Linked DNA regions of Homo sapiens. Each later gene encodes a partner of the first gene's protein in a complex. Each region holds a gene or a part of one and is shown on either strand. Other genes may lie near its edges.

What was found. Proteins that work in one complex are often made in the same cells at the same time.
Region 2: TBP (region 1) and GTF2H3 share a complex: the UniProt entries of both Homo sapiens proteins name them as parts of the TFIID-containing RNA polymerase II pre-initiation complex.
Region 3: TBP (region 1) and TAF1A share a complex: the UniProt entries of both Homo sapiens proteins name them as parts of the transcription factor SL1/TIF-IB complex.

The regions. Positions count from the first base shown.
Region 1 is NC_000006.12:170,564,308-170,571,471, reverse strand, and holds part of TBP (TATA-box-binding protein), read right to left. Parts: intron 6,928-7,164; coding exon 6,840-6,927; intron 4,555-6,839; coding exon 4,463-4,554; intron 1,861-4,462; coding exon 1,693-1,860; intron 63-1,692; coding exon 1-62. UniProt on the Homo sapiens protein: The TFIID basal transcription factor complex plays a major role in the initiation of RNA polymerase II (Pol II)-dependent transcription.
Region 2 is NC_000012.12:123,636,829-123,643,828, forward strand, and holds part of GTF2H3 (general transcription factor IIH subunit 3), read left to right. Parts: intron 1-2,435; coding exon 2,436-2,515; intron 2,516-7,000. UniProt on the Homo sapiens protein: Component of the general transcription and DNA repair factor IIH (TFIIH) core complex, which is involved in general and transcription-coupled nucleotide excision repair (NER) of damaged DNA and, when complexed to CAK, in RNA transcription by RNA polymerase II.
Region 3 is NC_000001.11:222,572,934-222,579,933, reverse strand, and holds part of TAF1A (TATA box-binding protein-associated factor RNA polymerase I subunit A), read left to right. Parts: intron 1-43; exon of another isoform or gene 44-61; coding exon 62-175; intron 176-2,290; coding exon 2,291-2,489; intron 2,490-7,000. UniProt on the Homo sapiens protein: Component of the transcription factor SL1/TIF-IB complex, which is involved in the assembly of the PIC (pre-initiation complex) during RNA polymerase I-dependent transcription.

The sequences.
Region 1 (7,164 bases):
GGAGAACAATTCTGGGTTTGATCATTCTGTAGATTAAACCAGGAAATAACTCTGGCTCATAACTAGAAGGAAAATTGCAAAAAGTTTAGAAATCAAGAGCTTTGTGTGCTTTTAGATAAAATGAGGACCTGTACAAGGAAAAATACTGAATAAACAAACTAGTCAAGAGGTAAAACACAGTTCTTCAAGCAGCATCAAAGGATAGAATAGAATAATTAAAGCAAGTGAGGCCGACTTGTAGTCGTCAGTTGATAACCACTGGATGGAAGGCTATTTGTCCTCCTATCACTTTACCCTATTTCTATTGAATCTGGATTTTCTGATTTAAGAAAAAGAGCCCTGTAGTTATGTCTGCAGTCTCTATATCATTAGATATAATGATATCTAATGCAGATAATAATCCTTTACTTTTACAGTCCTAATAATTACTATTACAGTCCTAATAATCATTTACTTCTAAGATCCAATACTGACAGTTTAACTTTTAATCATATCTTACCTCCTTAAATTGAAATATTCTCTAGCTGACAATTGTGGTCAGGAAATTTAATCAAACTTATATACTAGCCTGAGAATTAACCTATACCTGATTAAGCTGTCTGACTGAATGGACTATTGGTATATATTCTTTTTTTTTTTGAGACGGAGTCTTGCTGTGTCGCCCAGGCTGGAGTACAGTGGCACGATCTTGGCTCACTGCAACCTCCATCTCCTGGGTTCGAATGATTGTCCTGCCTCAGCCTCCCATGTAACTGGGATTACAGGCATGCACCACCATGTCCAGCTAATTTTTGTATTTTTAGTAAAGACGAGGTTTCACCATGTTGGCCAGGCTGGTCTTGAACTCCTGAACTCAACTGATCTGCCTGCCTCGGCCTCCCAAAATGCTGGGATTACAGGTGTGAGCCACCAGGCCAGGCCTGGTACATATTCTTCTAAGCCTAGTAATCTCATTTTTCTCAGTTCGGAGAGACTGAAAACAGGATGCCTCTGTTTCTGTGTGTCTGACCTAAGACAAAATTCAGGACAGGCTTCTCTGAGGAAGAGTGGAATGGGTAGACATATGGAACTCAAGTGGGAGCTTCCTAGGTGAAAAGGGAAATGAGCATACTAGGCATAAAAGTGGCAAGTGCAAAGGCCTAGGGCAGGAGGAACCAAGTGAGCCCCAGGGGCACACAGAACTAATGTGCCTGTGAACAGACACCAGAAGACCATGAGATGAAGCAGTGAGGTGGGCAGGGCTGCCTGCCTGTGAGTCTTCACCTGCAAGTAGCAGGGAAGATAATTAGAAAGTTGTTCCTATCGCTCAACTTCACACTTTGCTGGTAGATCTGACACAATGTTGACTAAAAGAGAAGATCCAAACTGGGAAAAAAAATTGATACAAGGTTAGGGTCAATTCATGCATTCCAAGTGTATTCAGCAATAAAACGATAAAACATACAGAAGTAGAATCAAATTCATTCCAGTAAAGGGGAGTTATGGGTACCGCAAAGTGATAAGGGAAGCAGAGGCTGGTGAGGGTGATAAATATGACTGAGAACATCAGGAAGACAATGCAAGAATACATACAACTATAACCATGTCAACTGTTCTCATATACTGAATATTTTGCATGTGTTTTATTCTGAACAATGTTTAGATTATAAATGAACTGTTGCCAATAACAATCATAATACATTTCAGACTTACCTACTAAATTGTTGGTGGGTGAGCACAAGGCCTTCTAACCTTATAGGAAACTTCACATCACAGCTCCCCACCATATTCTGAATCTTGAAGTCCAAGAACTTAGCTGGAAAACCCAACTTCTGTACAACTCTAGCATATTTTCTTGCTGCCAGTCTGGACTGTTCTTCACTAGGGAAAGGAAAAAAGTGAGTTATTCATACTCAGAGCCAGCTAAAATACTTATTTAGACTAATAACTTATAAAAAGTCCAAAACAGTAAACTAATAAAGTGTAAACTGGTCAGCCTTCTTGCAATAGGAGAAAAGACTGACAGGCATTCACAATTCCTTATAAAGTATTCCTGGATCCTTGACAGAAAACTGTAGGCCTGCCAAAATGACCTTTCAATCCGCCAAATTATTGTAGCCCTAGATTTTATGGATGTGAATTATCACCATCATCAGTCATCACTATTTCTGTATTTTAGCCCATGCATTTCTACTGAGAGGAAAACTAACAAACTTCATTTTGATCAGAAAATGTTGATGAGATTTATTATTGAACAATGTATTCACTAATTCTATCCTCTTTTATACCAAGACTCATCATGAATAGACATTCCTATGTCATTTGTTGAATAAACTACGACTTAGCAGTTCAGAGCTTACATAAGAAAAGCAGAATGTGGGCCAGGCATGGTGGCTCACGCCTCTAATCCCAAGCACTTTGGGAGGCCAAGGCGGATAGCTCACCTGAGGTCAAGAGTTCGAGACCAGCTTGGTCAACATGGTGAAACCCTATCTCTACTAAAAATACAAAAATTAGCTGGGCATGGTGCCAGGCACCTGCAATCCCAGCTACTTGGGAGGCTGAGGCAGGAGAATCACTTGAACCTGGGAGGTGGAGGTTGCAGTGAGCCAAGATTGTGCCACTGCACTCCAGCCTAGGTGACTCCACCAAAAAAAAAAAAAAAAAAAAAAAAAAAGAAAAGGAAAGAAAGAAAGAAGAGAAAAAAAGAAAAAATAAAAGAGAAAAAGGCAGGCAGGCAGGTCGGGCACGGTGGCTCACACCTGTAATCCCAACACTTTGGGAGGCTGAGGCAGGCGGATCATGAGGTCAGGAGATTGAGACCATCCTGGCTAACACAGTGAAACCCCATCTCTACTAAAAATACAAAAATTAGCCAGGCATGGTGGTGGGCACCTGTAGTCTCTGCTACTCGGGAGGCTGAGGCAAGAGAATGGCGTGAACCCAGGAGGCGGAGCTTGCAGTGAGCCGAGATCATGCCACTGCACTCCAGCCTGGGCGCAGAGCGAGACTCCATCTCAAAAACAACAACAACAACAAAAAAGAATGTGAAAATATTACCATAAAGAGACTATCAGGTGCAGGGGATCAGGAAGAACAAAAATCAAGCATATATATATATGCTACGCTTTTAAATTTCAGGTAAATGTATTGGTGGTTTCTTGTCTTGATGAAATAGTCATCCAACTACATATACAATATTCAGTTTTCAGATGCTCTGGGACAAAAAGGCTAAATGCTGCATGAAAAGCTTGCCTTGATAAACCAAAAGTTTCTGATGTTCCATGCAGGGGAAAACAAGCAAACAAAAACGCTCTTAATTAAAGAGGTTACTACTGCATGTTGTGGCCAAGGGGAAGTGAAAGGCAAGAACACATCCTTGTCCTGCATTCTGAAAAACCTCGGAGATCAGGAGCCAGAATGTCCACACCAATGGCATTCCCATCACTGAAAGACAATTTCAAACTTCAGAATAAGCAAAAATATCCACAGCCCCCTTCTATGTGTTGATACCTCCAAGTACATTTAATACTCTTTCATTTAAAAAGTTTTAGTTTATTTGTTCAGTTCATTTATGAAGCTAATGTCACTAATTTTCCCCCTAGTTTTTGACTTCTACCAAGTATATAAGCTCTGTTTAGAACAGTCAGGGCCGCAGAGTACTAACCTTCAGACAGGATCACTTCAGATGGAGAATATAGGCAATGACATTTTATAACAAGGGTGCATTCCTTAAGATCTGCACAACTCAAACACTATTAATGAAAGCTAGTTCCAGTGAGAAGGCAGGTTTCTGCAGCCAACACATGTGATGCTGTCACGCTGCCAGGCCCAATAAGGTCTGCAAAGCCCTTACACCATTAGCTTAGAAGTGTTTTAATTCTTGATCAATTTTTTCTTCCATTTCAAGATGTATTTGTGTTATTTACAACATTTTTCACATAAAGGGAATTTTATTAATAGTTCTGATGTTGTATTACATCTTACCTAATTTTTTTCTTTTTTCTGGAGAAAGTGTCTTGTTCTGTCTCCCATGCTGGAGTACAGTAGCATGATCTCAGCTCACTGCAACCTCCACCTCCCGGATTTAAGCGATTCTCGTGCTTCAGCCTCCCAAGTAGCTGGGACTACAGACATCCACTACCACGCCTGGCTAATTTTTGTATTTTTAGTAGAGATGGAGTTTCACCATGTTGGTCAGGCTGGTCTCGAACTCCTGGCCTCAAGTGATTTGCCCGCCTTGGTGAGACACCACGCCTGCCCATATCTAATTTTTAAGAAAATGAAATCACTGCTATCTAACATTAATAGAATCAAATAATAAATAAATAAATAAAAATAATTAATAGAATCATATTAAAATGGTTTTTATAAGAAAGCAATAATAACATGTTAAAGTGCTAACCTAATAACCTAAAAACAATGAGATATCACCTTTTCATTCATAACCCATAGACCAGAAGAATGAATTTCTTACGGCTACCTCTTGGCTCCTGTGCACACCATTTTCCCAGAACTGAAAATCAGTGCCGTGGTTCGTGGCTCTCTTATCCTCATGATTACCGCAGCAAACCGCTACAATGGTCAGAGAGAATCATTAGTGAGGTCATGCCAAACTGCTCAATGTTGTTAGGCGAACCACCCATTGACAAAAAAATCACAACTGGTAGGAAGGACATAGTACATCTAGTTATCAAAATATTTGTTCTGTATTTCTGTATATCTGTAAAGGATTTGCATACACCACATGTAACAAATATTCCTTTGCATAAGGAGCAGAAAATAATCAATTGTGACTAAGTTATACCAAATCTGTATGTTCTTTCACATGAGCATTCCATCAAGAGAAATGTTTGCAAAATTTGGTTATGTTCTCAATAAATACAAGTGCTTCTGTTTCTACTTTATATTTGCTGCTTATCATGACTATAGCTTCTCTGATACATTTTGTTTTATTAATATGAATTTTGAGGCAAATAAACCAATAAACCTTTTCTACCTTAATGGAATTAATAAATCAGATTACAAGCCTATCAATACGTAATGAAGTAAAATCATGCTTTCAATTGGTCTTTAGAAACAATATTAATGTATTAAACACATAAATGCAAATTAGGAAAAAAACACAGTTTTAACTTTTATTTTCTGCTTTTTATGCTTGAAACATGTTAATTCTTTCAGAAAATTTTCTTGCTAAGGTGGTAACTCAAGGGGAAAATATTTCAACTGTGGGTTGAATTAATGGCCTCAGTTATTAGGTACATGATAAAAAGCAAATAATTACTTTGAAACAACTTAAATATTTTAATACATTTAATTATACAATAAAAACCTACATGTTTCTAATTAAGACGACTCTTTGACAAACTAGATTGCTTTAACAATTTTATTTTTTTATTTTATTAATTTTTTTTTTTAGAGACAAGAGTCTCACTTTGTTGCCCAGACTGGAGTGCAGTGGTGCAATCATGGCTCACTGCAGCCTCGAATTCCTGAGCTCAAGAGATCCTTCTGTCTTGGCCTCCCAAGTAGCTGGGATTATAGGTGTGTGCCACCAACCCCAGATAATTTTTTAAATTTTCTGATGAAACAAGGCCTTGCTATGTTGCCCAGGCTCGTCTTGAACTGTTGGCCTCAAGTGATCCTCCCACCTTGGCCTCCCAAAGTGCTGGAATTACAGGTCTGAGTCACCATGCCTGGCTTTTAACAATTTTAGTTTAAAACCTGCTCTATGTCTTCCCTGTGATTTTATCAACATCTAAAAAAGCTAGCAGTATATAGTAGTTTATATACGTCCCAGGAAAAGCCTAGCTATTTTGAATTTCCAGAATTTCCTCTACTATTTTTATTGGTTAAATATCACTTAAGAACGTAAAGTAATAAAATTATGTATTCAACTAAATGTGATTATAATAGATGAAAGATTAATTCTTAGAATGCTACATGTCATACAGACTCATTATGAGTGGTTAAAAGGTGATTTTCAGACCCTTAGCTGTCTTTCAGATCTCAGGCATTATGTTTCAGGGATTTTAAAATGCACCCTAAGTCCATTACTTAACATTTCTCTCAACCCAGCTAATGTTTATCCAAATTACTTTGCCTACTATAGCTGGCTAACATCATCCCTATACATATACAAAATTCTTCACATGATCCCAATACAATACATATATAACTTAGCTTATTTTATAGACTGCTGTACTCCCAGGGATTCTTATATCACAGACACTCAATAAAAGATACAAAACAATGCACATTTTACTTTAGATCTTCATTTTATTGGTGTCAAGGAATAAGCATAACACAAACTCTTTGATATACAGATTTTTTTTTTGAGGCGGAGTCTCGCTCTGTTGCCAGGCTGGAATGCAATGGCGCAATCTCCGCTCACTGCAACCTCTGCCTCCCAGGATCAAGTGATTCTCCTGCCTCAGCCTCCCAAGTAGCCGGGATTACAGGCGCATGCCACCACTCCCGGCAAATTTTTGTATTTTTAGTAGAGACGGGGTTTCACTATGTTGGCCAGGATGGTCTTGAACTCCTGACCTCAGATGATCCGCCCACCTCGGCCTCCCAAAGTGCTGGGATTACACGTGTGAGCCACCAAGCCCGGCCAATTTTTTTTTTTTTTTTAAGAGACAGGGTCTTGCCATGTTGCCTGGGCTGGTGGTGAACTCCTAGGTTCAAGAAATTCTCCTTCCTCAGCCTCCCAAAGTGCTGGGATTACAGGCATTAGCCACTGTGCCTGGCCTGATCTACAGACATTTGTTTTATAGCGTGAAATACATTAAAATATAGAGACACGGCAGAGGAGACAAAAAAGAAAAAAAAAAGAAATACATTAAAATAGATCTAACCTTGGGATTATATTCGGCGTTTCGGGCACGAAGTGCAATGGTCTTTAGGTCAAGTTTACAACCAAGATTCACTGTGGATACAATATTTCTGTAAGAGATTTAAAAAGAAAACACGACTATTTAAATTACTTAAGTTTCATTGGATGAGGCGTTAGAAATTATGCAGACATCTGATTATTTCAACCAGGCTTTACTTTTTTTTAATTGCTCACATTTATTGTTTAACAAGTATCATGCACATGTTGAGCATTTTATATAGATTATTCCATTTAATACATATAACGCACTGAGGTAGAAGTTACCAGTATTCCCACATTTGGATAAA
Region 2 (7,000 bases), on another chromosome or scaffold:
ATCGCTTGATCCCGGGAGGCGGAGGTTGCGGTGAGCCGAGATCGCGCCATTACACTCCACCCTGGGCAACAAGAGCAAAACTCCGTCTCAAAAAAAAAAAATAATAATTAGCTGGATGTGGTAGTGCACGCCTGTTGTCCCAGCTGTGTGGGAGACTGAGACAGGAAGATCACTTGAGCCCAGGAGGTCAAGGCTGCAGTGAGCTATATTCGTGGCACTGTACTCCAACCTTGAGACCTTGTCTCAAAAATTTGTTTAAAAATACATAAATAAATAAATGAGCATCCTGGGCCTTTCATAACAGTGTATACTCACAGGTTTGTATGTCTGTCTGTCACCTCAATTAGAGTATAGTCTCTTTGAGGGGTTGGACCCAGTATCCCCAACACCTAACACTGGTAGTGTGAAAGTTTGTTGAAGGATTAATGTGTTTGGGGTGGTGCGTGCATGTAGTCCTTACTACTGGGGAGGCTGATGCAGGAGGATCACAAGCCCAGGATTTCAAGACCAGCCTGGGCAATTTATTGAGACCCCCCCATCTCTTAAAAAAAACCCAAAAAACAAAAATCCAAATGAATGATTAATGTGTTGTGGTAGCCTGTTTAGTTTAGAGAATAGAATTCCTCTTAACAGTAAAATCTTGACGTAGGAATTGCTTTTCCCTCTGTTTTTTAACTTTTTTTTTTTTTTTTGAGACAGAGTCCCACTCTGTCACCCAGGCTGGAGTGCAGTGGCAAGATCTCAGCTCACTGCAACCTCTGCCTGCCAGGTTCAAGTGATTCTCCTGCCTCAGCCTCCCGAGTAGCTGGAATTACAGGTGTGCACCACCATGCCCGGCTAATATTTTGTATTTTTAGTAGGGACGGGGTTTTGCCATATTGGCTAGGCTGGTCTTGAACTCCTGACCTCAGTGATCTGCCCACCTCAGCCTCCCAAAGGGCTGGGATGGGCGCCCAGCCTGGTTTTTTTACCTTTTAAAAAGTGACTCTTAATTACGATTGGCCTTGCTGCTACATGATTTGATGAGTACGGGCCAAATTGACAGCTACGCCTCCCTTTAATTTTTTGCTCCTGAAATTCTACCACTGGGATTCCTACTACTAGTTAACCAGTGCCTTCTGTCCTTGACCAGGCATTCAGAATGCAGTAGGTGGTTTTGTTTGTTTGTTTGTTTGTTTGTTTGTTTCCAGACGGGGTCTCATTCTGTCTCCCAGGCTGGAGTGCATTGGCAGGAACATGGCTCACTGTAGCCTCGACTTCCCGGTCTCAAGCGATCCTCTCTCCTCACCCTCCTGAGTAGCTGGGACTACAGGCATGTGCCACCATGCCCGGCTATTTTTTTTTCCCCGAGATGAAGTCTTGCTCTGTTACCCAGGCTGGAGTGCAGTGGTGCAATCTTGGCTCACTGCAGCCTCCGCCTCCCGGGTTCAAGTGATTCTCCTGCCTCAGTCTCCCGAGTAGCTGGGATTACAGGTGCTTGCCACCAAACCCAGCTAATTTTTTTTTTTTTTTGTATTTTTAGTAGAGATGGGGTGGCTCAACATGTTGGCCGGGCTGGTCTTGAACTTATGACCTCAAGTGATCCCCCCTCCTTGGCCTTCCAAAATGCTGGGATCACAGGCATGAGCCACCGCGCCCGGCCCTAATTTTTATATTTTTAGTAGAGAAAAGGTTTTGCGATATTGCCCAGGCTGGTCTTGGGAACTTCTGAGCTCAAGCCATCTGCCTGTCTTGGCCTCCCAAAGTGCTAGGACTACAGGCCTGTGCCACCACACCTGGCCCTCGTTCAGTAGATATTTATTGAGCAGCTGCAATGTGCTAGGCAGTGTGGTAGGAGTGAGGATAAGCAGTGAACAAAAGAGACAAAAATTCCTACCCTCACAGAGTTTACATTTAGTGCATTGGAGATATAGTGGTTCAGGACGTAGACAAGAACTTGCTAAGGGCCCACTGTGCTTTAAAGCTTTTTTTTTTTTTTTTTTTTTGAGACAGAGTCTTGTTCTGTGGCCCAGGCTGGAGTGCAGTGGCGTGATCTCGGCTCACTGCAAGCTCCGCCTCCTGGGTTCACGCCATTCTCCTGGCTCAGCCTCCCGAGTAGCTGGGACTACAGGCGCCCACCACCACGCCCATCTAATTTTTTGTATTTTTAGTAGAGACGGGGTTTCACCGTGTTAGCCAGGATGGTCTCGATCTCCTGACCTCGTGATCTGCCTGCCTCGGCCTCCCAAAGTGCTGGGGTTACAGGCGTGAGCCACCACGCCCTGCCCAGCTTTAAAGCTTTAACTGGGTCTTCTGTTAATCTCATAATTATAAGGTGATAAACATTTAAGGCATATAGTGGTGCTCTGGATTTAATTTATGAATTGGGAATGTTAGCTTTGATTCATTTTTATGGAGCTAATGTTTTAAATTTTATTTCTTGTTAATATTTTCAGAAGATGAATTGAATCTTCTGGTTATTGTAGTTGATGCCAACCCAATTTGGTGGGGAAAGCAAGCATTAAAGGAATCTCAGGTAAGACTGCTTGAGGAGGCCTTTGGAGAATTCTGGTTTAACTGAGTGTTTATATTGCTTTTTTAAAAAATGGCTTTATTAAAGTATAATTTACATACTGTAATATTCAGCCACTGTACAATTCAGTGATTTTTTTTAAGTAAATTTGCGAAGTTGTGTAACCAGCCCCACATTTCTGCTTTAGAATATTTCTTTGACTGCGTAGCGTTCCCTCATGCCTGCTTGCAGTCAATCCCTGCTTCTATCTCCAAGCTGCAAGCAACCACTGATCTGCCCTCTATCTCTAAATTCCCTTTTCTGGACATTTCATGTATTGATTTCATACAATATGTGGTCTTAAAAAATACTTTCTATTTTGAAATATTTTATTTTTAAATAATATAGACATAGGAAACCAGAAAAGATACAGAGAGGTCCTGTGTACCCATCACTCAAGTTCTTTCAGTGGTGACATTTTACATAATGATAGTACAATTTTGAAACTATCAGTGCAATCTACAGACCTAAGCAGATTGCAGGTTTTACATGTGCTCACTTGTGTGTATGCGTGCGTGCGTGTATGTGTGTGGTTCTGTGCAGTTTTACCACATTCATTGATTTGTGTGTCCATCAGCACCACCATCTCATGCCTCAGCCTCCCGAGTACTTGGGACTACAGGTGCGTACCACCATGCTCAGCTAATTGTTTGTATTTTTAGTAGAGATGGGGTTTTGCCATGTTGGCCAGGCTGGTCTCGAACTCCTGGCCTCATGTGATCTGCCCGCTTTGGCTTCCTAAAGTGTTGGGATTATGGGAGTGAGCCACCGCACCTGGCTGATTCTTCATGTTTGTTCGTTTGTAATCTGGTCCCACTCTCGACCACACCTTCTTTGCCTGTCTGTACTCCCAGGCAACTCTTGATCTCTTTGTGTCACTGTAGATTAGTTTGGATTTTCTAGATTTTTTTCATGTAAATGGAATCAAACAGGTTATAGTGGGGAGGTTTTTGTGGCCTTTTTTTTTTTTTTTTGAGACGGAGTTTTGCTCTTGTTGCCCAGGCTAGAGTGCAATGGCGCGATCTCGGCTCACTGCAACCTTTGCCTCCTGGGTTCAAGTGATTCTCCTTCCTCAGCCTTCCGAGTAGCTGGGATTACAGGCATCCGTCACCACGCCCAGCTAATTTTTTGTATTTTTAGTAGAGTTGGAGTTTCACCATGTTGGCCAGGCTGATCTCGAACTCCTAAACTCAGGTGATCTGCCTACCTCGGCCTCCCAAAGTACTGGGATTACAGGCATGAGCCACTGTGCCTGGCCTTGTCTGTTCTTTTTAATGACAGGTTAGCTGTTTTCCACTTTTAAATGGTTTAAAATAAAATCAGAAGAATAACATTTTTGTGACTTGAAAATTATATGAAATTCAAATTTCTGGGTCTATAAATAAGCCTCACTCATAAATTTATGTATTTTCTGTGGCAGCTTTTGCATTACAAAAGCAGAGGTGGGTAGCAATAAAGATTGCATGGCTCAAAAAGCCTAAAATATTTACTATCTGGCCCTTCACAAAACAAGTTTACTGACCTCTGGCCGATTGTGTGGTCTGTTCTGGAGAATGTTGCATGTCTACTTGAAAAGAATGTGCATTCTTTTGTTTCTAGTGAAGTGTTCTATAAATGTCTATTAGTTTAAGTTGCGTGATAGCGCACCTATAGTCCCAGCTACTTGAGGCGCTGAGGTGGGAGGATCACTGGTGCCCAGGCGGTTGAGTCTGCAGTGAGCCATAACTATGCCACTGCACTCCAGCCTGGGAGACAGAGCAAGACCCCGTCTCAAAAAATATAAAATAAAAAAATAAAAAAATTATCGAGAATGGAATATTGAAATGAAGTATTGTTGTTGAATTGTGTATTTCTTTTTTTTTTTTGAAATGGAGTTTCGCTCTGTCACCCAGGTCGGAGTGCAGTGGTGTGATCTCTGCTCACTGCAACCTCTGCCTCCCGGTTCAAGCGATTCTTCTGCCTCAGTCTCCCAAGTAGCTGGGACCACAGGCGTGTACCACCACGCCTGGCTAATTTTTGTATTGTTAGTAGAGACGGGGCTTCGCCATGTTGGCCAGGCTGATCTTGAACTCCTGACCTCAAGTGATCTGCCTGCCTCGACCTCCCAAAGTGCTGGGGTTACAGGCATGAGCCACGTGTCTGCCCCCGTTTTTTTTTTTGTGTGTTTTTTTTTTGAGACAGAGTCTCACTCTGTCACCCAGGCTGGATAGCAGTGCTAGGATTACAAGTGTGAGCCACCATGCCCATTTCCCCATATTTTGATAGCAGCAGTTAGTGTACTCACATTTAATATAATTATTAGTGTGGTTGCGTTCATATCTGCTATTTTGTTATTTGTTTTCTGTATGTATCATGAATTTTTTGGTTCTTTGTCCTCCTTTACTGTCTTTTGTGTTAAATAAATATTTTTTACGTACTATATTAATTCTTCTGTTGATTTGATTAATTCTTCTGTATATTTTTAGTTTTTTTGTTTGTTTGTTTGTTTTTTGAGATGGAGTTTTGCTCTTGTCGCCCAGGCTAGAGTGCAATGGCACGATCTCGGCTCCCTGCAACCTCCATCTCCCTGGTTCAAGCAATTCTCCTGCCTCAGCCTCCCGAGTAGCTGGGATCACAGGCGCGTGCCACCATACCTGGCTAATTTTTGTATTTTTGGTAGTGACAGGGTTTCACCATATTGGTCAGGCTGATCTCTAATTCCTGACCTCAAGTGATCCTCCCGCCTCGGCCTCCCAAAGTGCTAGGATTACAGGCATGAGCCACTGCACCCAGCCTTCAGTTATTTTCTTTTTCTTTTCTTTTTTTTTTTGAGACAGAGTCTAGTTTTGTCGCCCAGGCTGGAGTGCATTGACATGATTTTGGCTTACTGCAACCTCTCTCTCCCGAGTTCAAGCAATTCTCCTGCCTCAGCCTCCCGAGTAGCTGGTATTTCAGGCATGCACCACCACACCCAGCTAATTTTTGTATTTTCAGTAGAGACGGGGTTTCGCCGTGTTGGCCAGGCTGGTCTCGATCTCTTGACCTCGTGATCCGCCCACCTCAGCCTCCCAAAGTGTTGGGATTACAGGCATGAGCCACCACACCTGGTCAATCTCTTCTTACTTGTGATTCTATTTCCAAAAAAGATCATGTACACATGTACCAGAAGTTAGGACTTGAACATATCTTTTGGGGGGACATAATTCGACCCACAACAGTTGCTGTAGGGATTACTGTATGTATCTTATCATTGTGTACTTTAGATTAATACTCATTTAATTCCAGTAAAATATAGAGGCTTTGCTCCAATATAGATCCACTTCCACCCCTTCCCCATGTTCTTATTGTCATACATATTACACCTGCGCATGTTATAAATCTGATAACGCAGTGTTATAATTGTTACTTACACAGTTGCTTACACCAAGTATAAGCATCTTTTCTCTTGTTAACAAAAAATAAAAATATCAGACAATATTCATGTTAGAACTACACTCATTTTTCAGCTGAAACCATACTCTTTTTTCTTTTTTTGAGATGGCGTCTTGCTCTGTCGCCCAGGCTGGAGTGCAGTGGTGCAATCTCGGCTTACCGCAATCTCCACCTCCCGGGTTCAAGCAATTCTGCCTCAGCCTCCCGAGTAGCTGGGACTACAGGCACACGTCACCATGCCCAGCTAATTTTTTGTGTGTGTATTTTAGTAGAGATGGGGTTTCACCATGTTGCCCAGGCTGGTTGCAAACTCCTGAGCTCAGGCAGTCTGCCCGCCTTGGCCTCCCAAAGTGCTGGGATTACAGGTGTGAGCTACTACGCCCGGCCCAACCATACTCATTTTTCAATTAGCTATGGATACAAGAATTCAGCAAAAATCAACATAGGCATTCTGTGAGAATCCATTGACTTATGCAATTTACTATAAAGAGTATTGTGCATTTTACTGTTATTTGTAAATTGTGTGCTACATACTGCTGTATCAGTAATATTCGTATGTACTTGTGTACATGGGTACCTCGGTTTTGGGGAGCGAATGGTTAAACATCCGCCAGCACATCACTGCATGCTGCCCTGTTACTCCAGAAAGGCTGCGTTTGCACTCATCAGTGCTGTATGAGAGTTCCTTTTTTCTTGTACCAACACAAAATGTTCATTCTCCTTATTTCATCTTTTGTCAATATGAGGCAAAAAACAACGTAATCTCAATTTGCTTCCAGTGTATTTCGTGGCCATTTGTATTTCTCTCTTGGGACATCACCCACTTCTTTCTTTGGATATTCATAGTGTGTGGTTTTTTTTAAATTAATGATTTATGGACAGTCTTTTATATTAAAGGATTAACCCATTACTTGCCATGTGTTGCAACTGGTTTTTTCCAGTTTGTAACTTGTTTTCTTTCACTTTTATTTATATTGTCACTTTTCGCCAATTAGAAATTTTAATAGATTTAAGTTTTTTTTCCAGTAGGGTGAAATT
Region 3 (7,000 bases), on another chromosome or scaffold:
TTAGACAGAAATTGGTTAAGGCAAAAATTTTACATTTTGGCAGTAATTTCTGCTTTGACAGATTATTTGGAAGCTCGGAAGTGAAATTCTATTTTATCATCCCAAAAGCAACATGGAGAGTTTCAATACTTTTGCTAACCGGATGAAAAATATTGGCGTCATGAATTATTTAAAGGTGAGAATATGGGCTTTGTGAATTTACACTTGCAGTATTCTTTTTTTTTTCTAATTGCTTGTGTCAGTGATAAGGTAGTTAACCTAAAAAATGTGGGACAAGGATAAGACATTCTGGATAAATAAGAGAAACTGAAAGAAAAGAGCGTTATGAGAACCATTTACTTCTTGATTTTCAGGCGCCTCCTGTGTTCTCTGACTAAAAATTCCTTTTCTTTGTATATTTCTTCTGGCTGCCAAAACCAGTTATTCAGAGATTGCAGTGGTATGATGATGGGCCAGATTCTAAAATGTTTGCTGAAGTCACTTGAGCTTAGAGTTGGTGTTTAGAAAAGGAAAGAGCTAAACAAGTTGGGAATTTAAATACGTGAAAATATTTTAATACTTCTAATGTTTAGGTGGAATCTTCACCTCCAAGTTCATATATCCTTTTGTAAAAGTCTTATCCAAAAAGATTGAGACATTTTCAAAATATTGTATCTCCCTCTCTATGTTTTTGTCTCAAAGAGCACTTTTTCAATACAGGTTTGTAAATGCTTTGCTTTAAAAAAATGTTTTGAGTGTCTATTTGTGTGCCAGATGCTCTTACGATTTTGTTCTCTGGTAGACCAGGTATACTGTGAGTGGAAATTAAATGGGGGCAGTTTACGGTTCTACTTAAGAAAAAGCTTTCTAACTAAACAATTGGAAATGGGAATGGCCTACCCTGATGTGTGCTCTGCGTCTCTTTTTTCAGGTCTAAACTGGATAGCCATTTAATTAGGGAGGGAGTGTGAAGAGTAAACTGTTGGTTAGGTCCCTTTTGGCTCATAGAATCTACTCAGTTGAAGTAAAGAAACTGAAAGGGAACCTCATTTCTCAATAAGAGTCTGAGAGTGATAATTAGGATAGATAATACAATTTTTTTTGTTGTTAATAATTTTAAAAACACTTATTGCCGCTTACCAGGCAATATGCTAGACATGGTTCTTATAGTAGAGGAAGATCATGTAAATGGAATGAAGTGTTATGGGTACCATAGTAGAAATGTAACAAATGGTGAGAAGATAAAGGAGAAAATGGCCAGTTCTCTGGAACTAGAGAGGGTTGGGATTTAATGGGTAGGGGAATCAGGAAAAGAATGAAAGTGATACTTGAGATAAGTTTGCAAAAGCAATTGGCCATTCACTAGGCAGATTAGGGGAAAGGGCAGCCCTGCATGGCGGGGGTTATAAAGAGTTTAAAAGCCCTACATCCAATAATTTAGTTACTCTAAAAATCACTTGGGTAGAAGTTGGGGGAAGTAGGCTGGGCCCTGTGTGCCATACCCAGGGAACTTGGATTTTAATTCTGTAGTCAGTGGGAGCCATTGAAGGAGTTTATGCAAATGACTAACAAGATGAAATTTCTTTGGTAGCCACTTGAAAGATGGATTGTAGGGAGGCAGGAATGGAGAGGCCAGTTGACAACTTATTGCAGTACTTTGGCTCTACCCATATGATTAATTGTAGTTCTCATTATTCTCCTCTTTAATGTCTTCCCTTTTTGTAATACTCATTCTTTGTATAATTTTTCTTCCTGCTTCTCCTGTATCAGGGATACACTTTCCTCTCCATCTGAACTGAAGCCATTCTTCAGCATCCCTTATTAAGATATTTTCTCTAAGCTTATATAACATGTATAAAATAGTAATATTTGTTGAATGTCTGCTATGAGCCAAACTATTAGGTGATTTGCAAGTATTATCTCATTTAATCTTGAAAACACCCTTCTGAAGGGGCAGTAATGTTCCGTAAAACAAATGAGACTCACAAAGAGTGAATAATTTACCCAGGTTTATTTAGTTTTTAAGTGGTGTATGAACCAAGACACTCATCTTCAAAACCTCTTTTTTCCCCACTATATCACACTGTCTTTTGTTTGTAAGTTTACATAATTTAGCTCATATTTACATAGTGTTAATTGTTTCCTATGTCTTACTTCTTTGCCAGATTGTACCCAACATCAAAATTTTCCATGTCAAGTTATTTGTATCCTACCAAGGTCTTTGCCCAGCATGTATTATATATTTACTGAGCTTTTTGACTAATGGTTATCTAATGGCTTAAATGGCGGTGTACCCTTATTATTTTTGCAGATCTCCTTACAACATGCATTATACCTTCTGCATCATGGAATGCTTAAAGATGCTAAGAGAAATCTGAGTGAGGCAGAGACATGGAGACATGGTGAAAATACGTCTTCCCGGGAAATATTAATCAACCTTATTCAGGCCTATAAAGGGCTTTTACAGTATTATACCTGGTCTGAAAAGAAGATGGAATTGTCAAAGCTTGGTAAGTGAATACAGGTAAACTTTTTCTTATGATGAGACTGAGGGGCAGAGGGATCTTAAGGAGTAATCTAGTAATTTCCCTATTGACTTCATCCAGATATTATGGAGAACAGACTTTTTATGGATTTAAAATTCTTGATCCTTTATAATATTTCTGATATATAAAAAGCTTCAATCATAAATTAGATGGTTCATAATTAAGTTCATGATCATTTTAGGTTCATTGCTGTTTTGAATGTGATTTAGTCCAGGATAAACACAGCCAGACACAGCAGTGGAGACAGGTTTGATTCAGTAACTACTGACAGGAGGAAGAGCTAAACTCCATTCCAATTTCTATGGAGGTGACTTGGGGTTGTAAAGGGTGGGGGTGGGGAGCTTAAAAAGCAGAAGGCAGAACCACCAGTAAATTCTTCTGGAGTTTTCCCAGGCAAACATTTCAAGAGGGGCTGGGGTCATCCTGGGGATGTGGCCTTGAGCTGTTAGAAACTATGTTAGTGTTCTAGAAACTATGTTCAAGTATTTATTGGCCAAGTTTGAGGCCTAGTCCAGAAGAGAGCTCAGAGGAGCCTGGCTGGAGTTTGGTCAAGAAGAAAGTCTTTGCCAATTTCTAAGAAAGGCTACAGATTTTCTTCAGCAGTCATTATTACATATAATAAACATTTCTTCCTGTGTGCCTAGAATGGAGTTTAATTTACTTTGTAATGTTATTTCTCAGAATAATATGTTTAAAGAATAGGTCAAGATGGTCATTTCATTTTTGTGTAAAGGTTATAATGGACAATTTTCTTGATTTATTGACTATACCAGAAGTTGACCATTCAGTTCTCAAACTGATTCCCCTTCTCTTAACCTTCAATGGTGTTATCATCTTCATTTATGCCCAGATTTGCATTCACTGGAACTGTATGATTCTTTGCAATTCGCTTGCCTTGTATAGTTTCTCCGTAGGGGATAATCCTCGAGATTAACCTAATCTCTATGATTAACCCCTTTCTGTTTTCATCCTCCTCCATATCTTAGTCCTACTATTTATCACTTCTTATGTGGTAAGCAGTATTTCCTTATTATCCTTATGTGATAAGTGGTATTTCCTTGGTCTCTGGGCATGTAGTTTCACTAATTTCGATTCCCTTCCCTCTTCTTTCAAGATACTCTGAAATGCTCTCTTCATCATGATAATCTTGTGAGGCCTTTGTAGAGTCTCCTCTTCTAGAATGCTCTCTATTCTTCAAGACTCATTGGATCGCTGTCCCAAACCCTCATTCTTACACCTTAAACTTAATATATCAGCTGCATGTTCAGCCTGAATCATTTGGCTATTCATCTCTTGCTTTCTAATTGTGCTAAGTTTTTTCATGTGTATTTTATTAGTCCAGATATCTTCCCGTTTAGACTAATCAATGTTTGATGTAATATTCCTCTATTTCTTTTGTTAGTCTTGTCATATTTTCTGGTGTAATAGTTCTTTTTCAAAACTTACTCATTGATTAGGTTAGTTTTAAAGTCAGTATTTACTTTTCTTCTTATACATGGTTAGGTAAAACTCAAGCAAATATCTGATGATTAAAGCTGTTGGAACATCGCATTTGTAATGTTACTCTTGTGGATAGATGGTTCAGTACCTTTCCGTAGCTGACAGTTCTGTAGCAACAATAGATGATGATGGGATAATATGTAGAGCTCTTAGATGATCATTCACCTCAAGTGTCTATTTAACGAGAAAAAAAGTTAGGACTAGTTCTTTATAACCAAACTCATGGGCACTTACCATGTGAACTTGTACTTGGAGTCAGCTTGGGACTTTCTTGCTGTTATGTGGCTCTGTCTTGGTTGGGATTGATGCACTTGGTGACTAGGAACCTCCTTCTATAATAAATTCAAACCCAATTTATACTCAGGGATCTGTCTCTTTCTCTTTGAGGCAGAGTCTTGCTGTCTCAGTCTGGAGTCTCTTGCTGTCAGGCTGGAGTGCAGTGGTGTGATCACGGCTCATTGCAGCCTCGACCTCCTGGGCTCAAGTGATCCTCCCACCTCAGCCTCCCAAGGACTTGGGACTACAGGTGTGCACCATCAATTTTTTTTTTTGTGAAGATGGGGTCTTACTGTGTTGCTTAGGCTGGTCTTGAACCCCTGGGCTCAAGCAATCCTCCTGCCTCAGCCTTCCAAACTGCTAGGATTACAGGCGTGAACCACCATGCCCAGCCCTTTTTTTAAAAAAAATTTTTTTCCATATAATGTCTTACCTACTTTCCTATCACCTCATTTCTAAGTTCATATTGATATGTATTTAACTGATCCACTGGGAAAAAGATACCAGTGCCTCTGTTTGGTTTGCAGTATCTTGTGCTTCTAATAGCTATTTTTGAAAGACTTGAGTAACTTTCTTTGTAAACCTTTAAGATTGAGAAATAGATACAGAAAAAGCATATAAAACAAATGTGAGATATAATGAATAAATTTAAAATGGACATTCACATAACCACCACCCAGATTAAGAAACACAAAATACTGTCACCCTAACCTAAAATTCTCCCTGTGTGCCTTCCTGACTGCATTTCCTCCCATTCTCTCTCAAGAAAATCCCTGTCCTGACTTATGTTAATCACTCACTGGTTTTTCTTTATACTCTTTCCACTCATGTATACATTTGTAAACAATGTGATTTAGTTTTGCCTATATCTGAATGCTGTATTTGGAGTTGTACTGTATATATTCTTTTAGGCCTTGCATATTTTGTTCAAAATCAGTTTTAAGATAATACATGTTATTGGATGTAGCTCTAATTTATTCATTTTTTATGGTTATAAAATATTTTATGATAGTCACACTATTCCTTCTATTACTGATGGCCATTTAGGTTACTATTTTGGGCTATTATAAATAATTCTGCTTTGAAATGAACCCCTATTAATTTCTGTATACCGGTGCACATAAGTATGCATTTCTAGGAGTAGAATTGTCATAGAATATGTTTTGTGCGTCTTTAACTTTGGTACATAATATACTAAACTCTTTCCAAAGAGGTTACCAATTTGTACTTTACCGACAATCTGATTAGAGTTTTCTTTTGTTTGTATTCTCCTCAACATTTGTTATTGTCAGAGTTTTCATATCAGCCAATTTGTTGGGTGTAGTGATCTCTCATGGTTTTTTTTCTTTATAGCTTTATTGAGAATTAAGATATAATTCACATACCATACAAATTCACCCACTTAAAATATACAACTCAGTGGTTTTTAGTATATTCATAGAGTTGTAACCATCAGTACAATATTAGAATATTTTCATGACCCTAAAAAGAAACCCTGTGCTCTCCCATTTCTCCCCACCCCTCCAGTCCTAGGCAACCACTAATCTGCTTTCTGCCTCTAGAGATTTGCCTGTTCTGGACATTTCATACAAATGGAATCATACAGTATGTGGTCTTCTTTTACTTAGCATAATTTTTTTTTTCCCTAACAGAAAATTTTGACAAAGAAAGCATAATGTTTTTAATGTTATAGCATGTAATGGTACTTCATTTCTATTACTGAATAGAATTCCATTGTTTGTATATACTATATCTTAGGTATCCATTCATCAGTTGATGAACAATTAGATTGTTTCTACTTTTGCCTATTTTGAATAACATTGCTGTGAACATTTATGTACAAGTTTTTGTATGGACATGTGTTTTTATTTCTCTTGGGTATATACCTAAGAGAGAAATTGCTGGGTCATATAACTCTAAGTTTATCCTTTTTAAGAACCACTGGACTGTTTTCCAAAGCAATTGCACTATTTTACATCCCCAGTAGCGGTGTATGAGGGTACAAATTTCTCCACATCCTCACCAACACTTGCCATTATCTGTCTTTTCTATTATAGTCATCCTGGTGGGTGTGAAATGGCATCTTGTAGTTTTGATTTGCATTTTCCTGGGTGTTAATGATGTTGAGCATCTTTTCATGTGCTTATGGGCCATTTGTATATCATTTTTGGAGAAATTTTCATTCAGATCTTTTGCTCATATTTTAATTACCTGCTTTTAGATTATTGAGTTTTGTAAGAGTACTTAGTTGTTCTAGACAGAATTCTCTTATCAGATATATCAGATTCATGACTTGGAAATATTTTCACCTTTTCTGTGTGTTTTCACTATCTTTTTATTTTATTTTACTATTATTATTTTTTGAGACGGAGTCTCACTCTGTCACCGAGGCAGGAGTGCAAGTGGCGCAATCTCAGCTCACTGCAACCTCTGGCTCCCAGGTTCAAGTGATTCTCCTGCCTCAGCCTCCCGAGTAGGTGGGATTAGAGGTGCCTGCCACCACGCCCAGCTAATTTTTGTGTTTTTAGTAGAAATGGGGTTTCACCATGTTGGCCAGGCTGGTCTCGAACTCCTGACCTCAAGTGATCTGCCCACCTCAGCCTCCCAAAGTGTTGGAATTACAGATGTGAGCCACTGTGCCTGGCCTTCTTTTCACTATCTTGATGGTGTCCTTTGAAGCATAAAAGTGTTTCATTTGA